Linked DNA regions of Homo sapiens: region 2 is linked to region 1. The links come from fine-mapping of genetic effects on gene expression. A gene starts in region 1. The other region holds a variant in brackets. All regions are shown on one strand. Distances are from middle to middle. Region 1 holds the start of TCIM (transcriptional and immune response regulator). Region 2 has its middle 14 kb from the start of LINC02866.

The links. PIP is the estimated chance that this variant, and not a neighbour inherited with it, causes the effect. A credible set is the group of variants that fine-mapping cannot tell apart.
Region 2: its variant is the best candidate, but not a certain one, in a credible set for the expression of TCIM in tibial nerve (GTEx, PIP 0.56).

The regions. Positions count from the first base shown.
Region 1 is chr8:40,151,494-40,156,878 of GRCh38, reverse strand. TCIM (transcriptional and immune response regulator) reads right to left here and starts at 3,397. Exons shown (of 1, transcript NM_020130.5): 1 at 1,569-3,397. The coding sequence starts at 3,346. The coding sequence ends at 3,026. The region is part of intron 3 of LINC02866 (long intergenic non-protein coding RNA 2866); the gene reads right to left.
Region 2 is chr8:40,087,789-40,093,173 of GRCh38, reverse strand. No RefSeq gene overlaps it. Among named protein-coding and RNA genes, the nearest start is that of LINC02866, 14 kb to the left of the region's middle. The variant G/A (reference allele first, on the strand shown) is at 2,373.

The sequences.
Region 1 (5,385 bases):
TAAAAGTGATGCTTCAGAGGCCAGGCCTTCCTGTCTTCATGACTGACTAACATAGAAGTATCGTTACTTAAAAGAAAAAGAGAAGCTTGGTTTCTCCTAAAGAACCGGTATAGTCTAGTGGCTGGGAATGAAGGCCAGAGTTCCTGGATTTGATTTCTGGAGTTATTAGCTGCGTGTCATTGACCAAGTTACTGCACCTCTCTGTGCTTCAGTTTTATTACTATATTACACACGCACATGCCCTTAGCATTTATGTCATGGCACTAATTAAGTGATGTATTAGTAATACACAAAAAAAACACTTAGAAAATTGTCTGACTGAGAGTAAACACTCAGTGAAAGTTATTACTGTGATCTCATGATACAAATATGATTAACGAGCTATTTAATCTTTGCTGCTTTCATTTCTTCAATTACAGTGAGATGTCCTGAGATATATTTGTTTATCCTTGTGCCATAAATTTCTAAACTGAACCAATCCTCCCTGTTCTACTGATGTTTATTTTCACCTCACATTAAGTAATGAATGTATTATGAAGCTAAAAATCATCCTTATGCAATTAAATTGATTCCAACTTTTGTTCTCCATGAATGGTAAAGATGACACGTTTGTGATAATCTACTGGATGTGTTATTATTCTCCATACCATTGTGGAGTGCATCCAAATTGCTTTTTAATTTGTCTCCCATGTTACAGCCTTGAAATCAGAAAATAACGTAATATACTGCAAGAAAACAACTTAATACATGCTAATGTGAAAAGAGGAGAAGATATACTTTGTACCCTATTGAAAACAACAGTGGCAGAGTAAATAGTTATGAGTATGTATAATACACTTAACTCTTGAACTACATTTAGCATCCAAGTGTGCTTCAATTTTTGAATAGAAAATAAAGATTTTCACTGATGGGCCCTATCAGGAGAAGGAAGTTATTTCTAGCACACGCAGTGAACATTAAGAAAGCTCAGTTCATAAGGATGGGAAAGTAGGGTTATGGAGCCGAGGGCCTCTTTACAGCCTTCTCTTTCATACTCCCGTAACACAGCACAGTGAAAATGAAACAGGGAAAATTTCTATGGAATTGTCTAGTATGTCCCCAGCCTGGGTTAGGCTTCCTCCAATTCTCCTGCTACTCCGCAAACCCTTTTTCTGTTTATAACTTTTTTTGGAGTTATAGCTGTCTCTACAAATCTCGTGAAAATTATCAATATTCCTCTTAGAAAAATGCACACACACACACACACACACACACACACACAATTTTGCATATTAATGTGTTATCTTCCGGAATGCTCTCTTGGAAAGAACTCATTTTTAATAAAGTGCTTTGCATTATCTTCAGTGAACGAGTAAATTACTATTTGAAAATAGAATTTGCCATTTGATTTTCTTTTTAAAAACATAGTATTTATAATCCTGACTTGTAACCCTCCCAGCAGATGTGAGGTAATTCACTTGTTTTGACTTACTGTGATCAGCATTTTGAAAAACACTTTAGGTGTTTCTAAAATGCTTAACTTGTGGAAAAATTTCATTTTTGTTAGGAAAGCATAGCAGGCATTTACGTATGCTGTCCTAGAAACATTTTATTATAGTTTTAACGGGAAATAAGCAAAGAGATAATATTATTTCTATATTTGTTCCTATTAAACAAACAGTAGTAACACACAGAATCTTGGTCATCACTCAGACTCTAAACCCAAAACATATTGCTTGGGAAAAATAGATGTACACATGTACATAGCTACTGTAATCATAGAAGAAATTTTTCAAAAGTATGAAGAGAAAGCCTTTTAAAACTCATCCTTAATGGATACATAAATAGAAATGCCAAGGAGTCAATCTATGAACTTCTATATCTATATTTTATATTTTAAGATTGGGACAGAGAAACTTCCCAGATATTTGACGTAAGAATTTGTTTTGAAAAAGTTTGGTAATTAATATAAAACTACTCTAAAATTAACTTTTATTGTTAGAGACACATCTTTAGAAAAGTTTGTAAATATCAACATTTACCATCTTATTTTTTCCTTTGAGACCAAGCATCACAGACCAAAAGCCACAAAGTTTACAATAATTTATTATTGTTGCATGACATTTGCCAGTAAAATAAATTATAGAAACTATAGAGTCTTTATAAACTATTTTGTATATCATATTCACTTCCTAATGCTTACTGCAGTAACTGTATGAAATTTAATTAGATTACGTTTTAGCATTAGTCAGAAGATTTAAAAAATATGTAAAATGTTTTCACAGTACTTTGGATTTATAAAAGACCCCATTATTTTAACTTTTGTGCAACCTGTTTGAAATGTATAAAAAACCTTTTACAAACCAAAAGGTGGCGTAAGGTTTTACTGAGTTGCTGAAGACATCTTACTTTCTTGAATTTCTACTTAACATCCATGTGGTGCACTTTTTCAGGCATTGTAATAAGTGCAAATAAATAATCAATTATTGATTTCTAAAAATCTATACCAATAGACAATACTCAGGCTTGGAAATATTTTGAACACTCAGATATAAAAATTCAGTAAACAATTTATGCATGGTATTTTCTCTCCCTGTCCTCCCTCTCCCTCCTCCCTTCCCCTATCTATTTGGTTAAAAAAAAAAAAAAAAGTTCAACTTCGATTTAAGTCCTAGGGCCTGACAAAGTGACCCTGGATAAATGTCATCTCCAGCCATCTGTTTTCTTTAGTTCTCATTACATCTGTCCAGGCTCTTCTATCAGCATCAATCCTTTCCTGCAGGGACGGAAGAGTTTTCAAATCCTTGCTGAAAGCATTTTGTTCTCCTCTGTAACAGCACAGGGCATGAAATTGTTTGGAGTCTTTGTAACCAGTCTGTTCAGTCCTGGTCCCTTTCCAGTCCCGGTCCCTTTCCAGCCTCTGGAGTCCTGACAGAAGAGAAGCTTGTAAGGTAGCAGCAAAATGCTGCATCTGTTAGAATCTCACAAACTCACTTGGTCTTTGAATGTCCATTCTTGGATAACGTCCTTATCCATCCTCTTCTCTTCAGTGAACTTTGATGGAATATTTCCGCAGTTTCAGAAACTGGAAAAGCTTGTCTTTTGTCCTCTTCTTCAAGGCCATCAGGGCACGCGTTTTCTCCTCCACATCTTGATCTATGGCAAAAATGATCTTGGCTCTCTCCTCTGCTTTCTTGTCTCCAGAGTTTCTGAAGAGCCTTTCTAGTGATTCTTGGTCTGTGTTTTCAAAGATGTTGCCCACGGCTTTCTTACGAGAGGCTGTGTCGAAGTGGTAGCCATGGATGGATGGGCTGACTCGTAGCGACGTGGACATGATGACGGCTTGGTGGCTTCGCTTTGCTTTCATCGATGTGGGGATCTTCCGGAATTCAGCTCCCAGGCTTTCCAGAGAGTCTGTAGTGAAATCATTCTGGGACTGCTATTTAAAGTGTGAACAAAAGCTCCAGGCTCAAATTACACTGGTGACATCAGAGTGATCTCAAGGAAGAATAATCACAGAAAGGCTTAACAGTTGAGTTGCCAATATCCTGTTCTTGTGTAAAACATTACTAAAAGCTGTGTTCAGTGATTAGGCGCAAGGCTGTGAGTACTCATTTTACTTCCTATGTGGCAGTAGGATAATACAGACCTGGGCCTTCCTTTAAGAAAATAGCTGAATACAGGAAAATGCAAAGATAAGACATAAACGAGGTTGCTTAGACTCTCAAATCTTCCCAAACGACAGTTAGAACAAGGGGTTCTGCTAACTACAGGAAAGCTTTCGTTCGCAGAGAAGTAATTAAAGTGCACTGCAAACATTTGGCAGTCCACATCAGTGCCCTTTGGACATCCATATCAGGGGCAACTCCAGAGCTACTGAGAGAAAGCTGAGCAATCAAGGATAATAATTTGGGGTGTGATCAATTCTAGGATGGGATTTTACATACAAAACGCTGACATGACACAGCTTGAAACGGTGACTTTTCAGAGATTGTGTACAAGTGCTAAGTGTCACTGAAGACCATTGTAATTTGGGTGTAGTAATAATATGAATAGTAGAGGCTATCTCCTTAGGCTTGTGTATACATCCACAACAATAGCTATCAAAAAAGCCAGCAGGAAAAGTTAATCAAGTGTTTTACGTGCACAGTGCCCAAAATGAACGAGGTGATCTTTTGTTTTCAAATTTATTTTGGCATTACCCAGACATAGAGCAATAACTTCTTTGGAAGCATATAAATGTGTTCTTCCTGTCTTCCACAATATTCAAGCCAGCCAGTGTCCTCACTGACCTATGGAGTTGTCATATGCTAAATGTGAGCTTCAAAGGGTCCTGGAGATTCTCTTTGTGGATCTTACGCCTGGTCCGCTTTCTAGTCCTTTAAGAAAGCAGGACAGGTCTTTTCGTTTTTCTTTTTATCTAGTCAAGTAAGATCTAGAAAATGCGCAAAGGGAGACACCGTGGGGAAGGTACCTCACTAGGAAATTAAGTTAGAGACTCTCCTTATATTTTAATTCATTCATTCACTTACTCGTTTATCCACTCATTTATTTAATCAATATTTATTAAAGGTGTGTTATTAGCCAGAACTTTTTGAGGCATTGGAAATGAAACAGAAAACCAAACAAAACCAACCTAACCAAACCATGCAAAGAATCCCTTTTTTACCTTAATGAAGTTTATGTTCTACTGGGAAATAGACAATAGAAACATACATTTATAATATATATCATGTCAGAGTAAGGAATATTATGAGTAAAAATGAAGCAGAGTTGTACAGGAGTGGAAGGAGAGGGTTGAGATTTTCCTAGGATATTCAGGCACAGCTTCTTGTAATGAGACATTGTGCAAAGACTTGAAGGTGGTGAAGGAGGCAGTCAGCTATATGGATATCTGTAGGAAGGGTGCTGCCAGAGAAGCAAGTGCAGAAGGTTGAAGAAAAGAGTGTGCAAAGAGTGTATGGAGAACAGCCAGGGACCAGTGTGGTCAGAGCAGAGTGAGCAGGGCAGAGTGGGAGGAGATGAGGTAAGGGCGAGTAGGCAGTGGAAAGAGGGCAGGAGCAGGCTGTGTGCAACCTCACAGGCTTTGATTGTGGATTTAGCTCGTACACTGTTAGGAGACAGGTGGGCTTTGGAGAATTTGGAGCAGAGAAATGGCATGGTTTTCCTTATAATTTTAAAAGCTTACTGACACTTCTTAGAAGAGAATAGATTTCAGGGAAGCAAGCAGGGAGTGGGGAGCAGGAAGACTAGTCAGGAGATGTTCAATAATCCAAGAAAGAGAGGATGAAGGCTTCCACTAGGGAGAATGTGGAGGTAGTGAGAACTGATCCAATTCTGGCATATTGTGAAGGTAAAGCTAAGACGATTGCTGAAAAATTAGATGCGAGGAATGAATAACAAACA
Region 2 (5,385 bases), 64 kb after region 1:
GTCATCCATCTGCTCACCGGAGACTGAAGCATATTTGGCTGCTTCCTCTACTCTATGTTTACTTTCTTTCATGCAAAAACGCAGATTCACTGAGCAGACCAATGCCTCTGCCTGCTCCTTTCTTTTTGTTTTTTGTTTGTTCTTTTTGTTTTGTTTTGTTTTGTTTGTTTGTTTTGGTGGACTCTCGCTCTGTTGCCCAGGCTGTAGTGCAGTGGCAAGATCTCGGCTCATTGCAAGCTCCACCTCCTGGGTCTAAGCGATTCTCCTGCCTCATCCTCCTAAGTAGCTGAGATTACAGGCGCCCACCACCACGCCCCGCTAATTTTTGTATTTTTAGTAGAGCCGGGGTTTCACCGTGTTGGTCTGGCTGGTCTTGAACTCCTGACCTTGTGATCTGCCCACCTCGCCCTCCCAAAGTGCTGGGATTAAAGGCGTGAGCCACCACACCCAGCCTCTGCCCACTCCTTTCACATGTACAAGGTAAATTCAGTGAATGCTGATGAAAATCCCAAGAGAATGCAACCACTTGCTGCTTTTGTCTACACTGTTCTGTTTTGGTTCCTCCTTTCCCCTTCTACCTACTTTTTCCTCTTTTAAATACTGAAGCCCTCAAAATCATCTTTGGAAAAAGTATGGGCCGCAGATTCTACTGCAGCCTGTGTCTCTTTTTCCTGGGCGCATCCTCAATATTGGCAAAAATAAGCCTCTAATTGATGGAGACTGTCAGTCATTTCCTTTGGTTTCACAGCAGGGAAGGAGTTGAAAGAACAGCTTTACAGGAGAGAAACTGACAAACACTACCTCGATCCCAGTGATCAAGATGACCATCAAAGTCATAAGTCATGCAACAGCAGGCACCCTCTATGAGACATGATGAGAGGGAATTCTGTGGGCTTGCTTACCTCTGTTGTCTTTCTTTCCAAAATACATTATCCCAGGCTTGCCTCCCATTCTATTCAAAGTTATCCCTGTGCTCACTGAGGCAAAGGCATATCAGATTGCCTCCTTTGGAAAGGCTAATCAGAACCTCAAAACAGGCCGGGCAGTGTCTCAAGCCTGTAATCCCAGCACTTTGGGAGGCCAGGGTGGGTGGATCACTTGAGGTTGGGAGCTTGAGACCAGCTTGGCCAACATGGTGAAACCCCATCTCTACTAAAAACAAAATTAGCTGGGCGTGGTGGTGGGTGCCTGGAATCCCAGTTGCCCAGGAGGCTGAGGCAGGAGAATCCCTTGAACCTAGGGGGTGGAGGTTGCAGTGAGGCAAGATCGCGCCATTGCACTCCAGCCTGGGCGACAGAGCTAGACTTTGTCTCAAAAAAAAAAAAAAAAAATTAAAAGAATGCAACCGCTTCTCTCACCTATCTGTGACCTGGAAGCCCTCTCCCCGGCTTAGAGTCTTCCTGCCCCCGCTTCGAGTTGTCCCGCCTTTCCAGACCAAAACAGTGTATGTCTTATATCTATTGATTGATGTCTCTTGTCTCCCTAAAATGTATGAAATCAAGCTGTGCCCTGACCCCCTTGGGCACATGTCATCAGGACCTCTTGAGGCTGTGTCACAGTCGGGCATCCTCAACCTTGGTAAAATCAACTTTCTAAATTAACTGAGACCTGTCTCAAATTTTCAGGGTTCACATAGCCTAATCATGAAAAAGACACCAGACAAATTCCAATTGAAGGACATTCTAGAGAATACCTGACCAGAACTCCTCAAACCTGTCAAGATGATCAAAACCAAGGAAAATCACAGACACTGTCATGACCAAAAGGAGCCTATGGAGACACAGCTACTAAATATAATGTGGTTTCCTGGATGGGATCCTGGAAAGGTAAAAAGACACAAGGGGGAAACTGAGATAGTCTGATTTAAGCATTGATTTTACTTAATAATGATGTATCAATATTGGTTCATTAATTAGGGCAAATGTGTCATACTAATATAAAATCTTAATCATCAAAGAAACGGGGTTAGAGTATGTGGAAATTCTCTTTACTAACTTCACAATAATTCTGTAAATCTAAAACTGTTGTAAACAGGTTTATTTTTTTTTTAAATGTTCACACATGCCTCTGTTGGCAAAAGTCGACAGATGCCCCGCTGTGTGCACAAATGTCCTGTTGATGCTGCAGTCTCAATGACCAGCCTCACAATACAACTCAAACCTGTTATGCTTGTGACTCCTCCTAAAAGGCAAAGATTACAGTCCTGCTGAGTTTGGTGATTAATAGTCAGTATGCTTCCATGGTAAGGCTGTTCCGAGAATTTAGAAAAAGCATTTTAATCATCTGCCCACTCTCTCCTTTAAATGTGATTTATGGACTATGGATTTCAGTGTAGCAAAATCTTGAAAACAACAGCAAATTGTTCCTTCGAC[G/A]TGAGGCGTCATGGAGGGTGAGGCCCACAATTCTCAGAAACAAAGGGGAGATACAATTATTGGAAGAGAAGAATGGCATCATGTTGTTAGGATGGTCCTAGAACATAATTACTACCCCGAACTTTGTCCCCAGCCCTTTCCACTTACCCCAGTCCCAAAGAATCCAAAGAATTCATGAGAAATGTTGTCTCAAACTTTATTTTTTATTTTTTATTTTTTTTTTGAGATGGAGTCTCACTCTGTCCCCCAGGCTGGAGTGCAATGGTGCCATCTCAGTTCACTGCAACCCCCACCTCCCGGGGCTCAAGCAATTCTCCTGCCTCAGCCTCCTGAATAGCTGGGATTACAGGTGCATGCCACCATGCCCAGCAATTTTTTTGTATTTTTAGTAGAGACGGGGTTTCGCCATGTTGGCCAGGCTGGTCTCGAGCTCCTGACCTCAGGTGATTCGCCCTCCTCGGCCTCCCACAGTGCTGGGATTACAGGCGTGAGCCACTACTCCCAGCCATTCTTAAACTTTCTGAAACAATTAAAAGCACTGTTTCAAATAAAAAAAAGTTAAAGAAGAAATACATCTCAATCTCATTCATGTATTTGTAAGAATTGATTTTTCACTTTTAATATTTAAAACAAACCCTGGCCAGGAGGCTTGGCTCACGCCTGTAATCCTGGCACTTTGGGAGGCCAGGGTGGGTGGACCATGAGGTCAGGAGATCGAGACCAACCTAGCCAACATGGTGAAACCCTGTCTCTACTAAAATACAAAAACTTAGCCAGGCGTGATGGTGCACACCTGTAATCCCAGCTACGTGGGAGGCTGAGGCAGCAGAATCACTTGAACCCGGGAGGCGGAGTTTGCAGTGAGCCAAGATCGTGCCACTGCACTCCAGCCTGGCAATGCAGCAAGACTCCATCAAAACAACAACAACAACAAACCTATAAAGTGTAGTACTGATGAAAAAAGTCCATACAACCCTTCTTGAAGAGACTTTGAAAATGACCTCTGTGTCACTTGGGCGACATGTCTATCTTAAAGGATAGAGGAACAAAATAAGTCAAGACCTTATAACTGACCACAGGGAGGTTAAGGCCATCATCCCAAGTGGAGAAGATATTTTAACCGTGGAGCTTTAAGGCTTTTCACTGGTTCCCGACTGATTTGCTTTAAAACCAGGAACCTGCAAATGAATCCAACTGAATGATCAATTTATTCCATTATTGTATTTAATCAATTATTAAATGGCTGAAGTGCTTCTCAAACTCTTTTTTTCATGTATAACTCTTGCCCCTTCCCCCTCCTACTCTTGGAGCAGTTTTGCTCCTACATTTTTTTCTACCCCAGCTTACGTTATTTTTAAATGAAAATAGTTGGGCTTTCCTATAAACGCTAGCATAGAAAGAGCTGAGATATATGGTGTTAGACGCTGTGTAAGTGTAACATTTGTGCCAGGTGTGGTGGCTCACGCCTGTAATCCCAGCACTTTGGGAGGCCGAGGAGGGCAGATCACCTGAGGTCAGGAGTTCGAGACCAGACTGGCCAACATGGTGAAACCCCATCTCTACTAAAAATACAAGAATTAGCCAGGCGTGGTTGTGGGTGCCTGTAATCCCAGCTACTTGGGAGGCTGAGACAGGAGAACCACTTGAAGCTGGGAGGCGGAGGTTTCCGTGAGCCCAGATTGTACCACTGCACTCTTGCCTGGGCGACGGAGTGAGACCCTGTCTCAAAATAAAATAAAATAAAATAAAATAAAATAAATAAAATATCCCTTGAATCCTAGAAGCGGAGGTTGCAGTGAGCCAAGATAGCGCCATTGCACTCCAGTCTGGGCCTCACAGGGAGACTTTATCTCAATAACAACAACCAAAAAAAGTGTAACATTTGTGATAACGTCTGGGACTAAAGCAGGTACAGAGTGCAGAGCAGTAGTAGGACTCACACCCATGACAATAGAGACTAAAAAGCAAAAACGGAAATGCTATCCATTTACATGTAAAACGGCAATGATAGGAATAAGAGGGGGTATAAGATACAAGTGCTGGATAGAGGCTGAAGCAAAATTAAAACTGAGAAATTATCAGTAATTTGGCAAATGGAATTCACTTTAAAATTGATCTATTAGCAAAATAGCCTTTTGCAAACTGACCTGCTTCTCTTTTGATAATACCATACTCTCTTCTCGTGAGACCAAGTTAGATTGTTCTGAGCTTTACCAAGAATACATAACAAATTAATTGGGCAATAAACTTTTAAATAGCCATGCACATGATCCTATCTCTCATTTTCCCTACCAGTTTCCCGTGTGTCTTGAGTAAGAGCCCAGGACTGCTTGAGTTTAAATGTTCTGTCTGTTTAGGGGAGAAGAGAAAGAGAAGACAGGAGAGAGGAACTCCTTGCTTTTCCTACCTTCTGAATGAAATCAACTTACCAATAGTTAGGTCTGCTATCTTGCTTCAAACGACCCCCTTCTGACACCAGGAACCTCTTTAAAAGAATACTGTGATCTTTCAGTTATAAAATCATAGAGGAACTAGTAAAAACGAATGGAGGGTATGCTAGTGATCTGGGGCAACATCACCCTTACATTCTGTAGGCTAAATTCCAACATACTCGGAATAATAATATAAAGTCCTGAATAATATCATTGTATTCTACCCAGCAATATGTTGGACGGAAGAAGGAAAGGGAAGGAGAGAGCCAGAGAGAAAAGGAAGAAGAGAGGGGAGGATTTTGCGTTGAACTCTTGATATGGCCAACATAGAGCCTACCATTGTGGAGATTACAAGATACAATTTTCCCACCTTTTCTCTCGCCGGCCTTTCCTAGTGATACAGCTCCAGTGAGTGGAGGAACACCAGGGCTCTTGTTTCATGTCGAATTGTATAAAACGACATGGACACACGTGGAGTGGTTTTAAGGAGTGGAGAGTTTAATAGGCAAGAAAGAAGGGAGAAGAAAGAAGGAAGAAGCTCCCCTGTACAGAGCCAGAGCGGGGCGGAGTCTCCAAAGCTG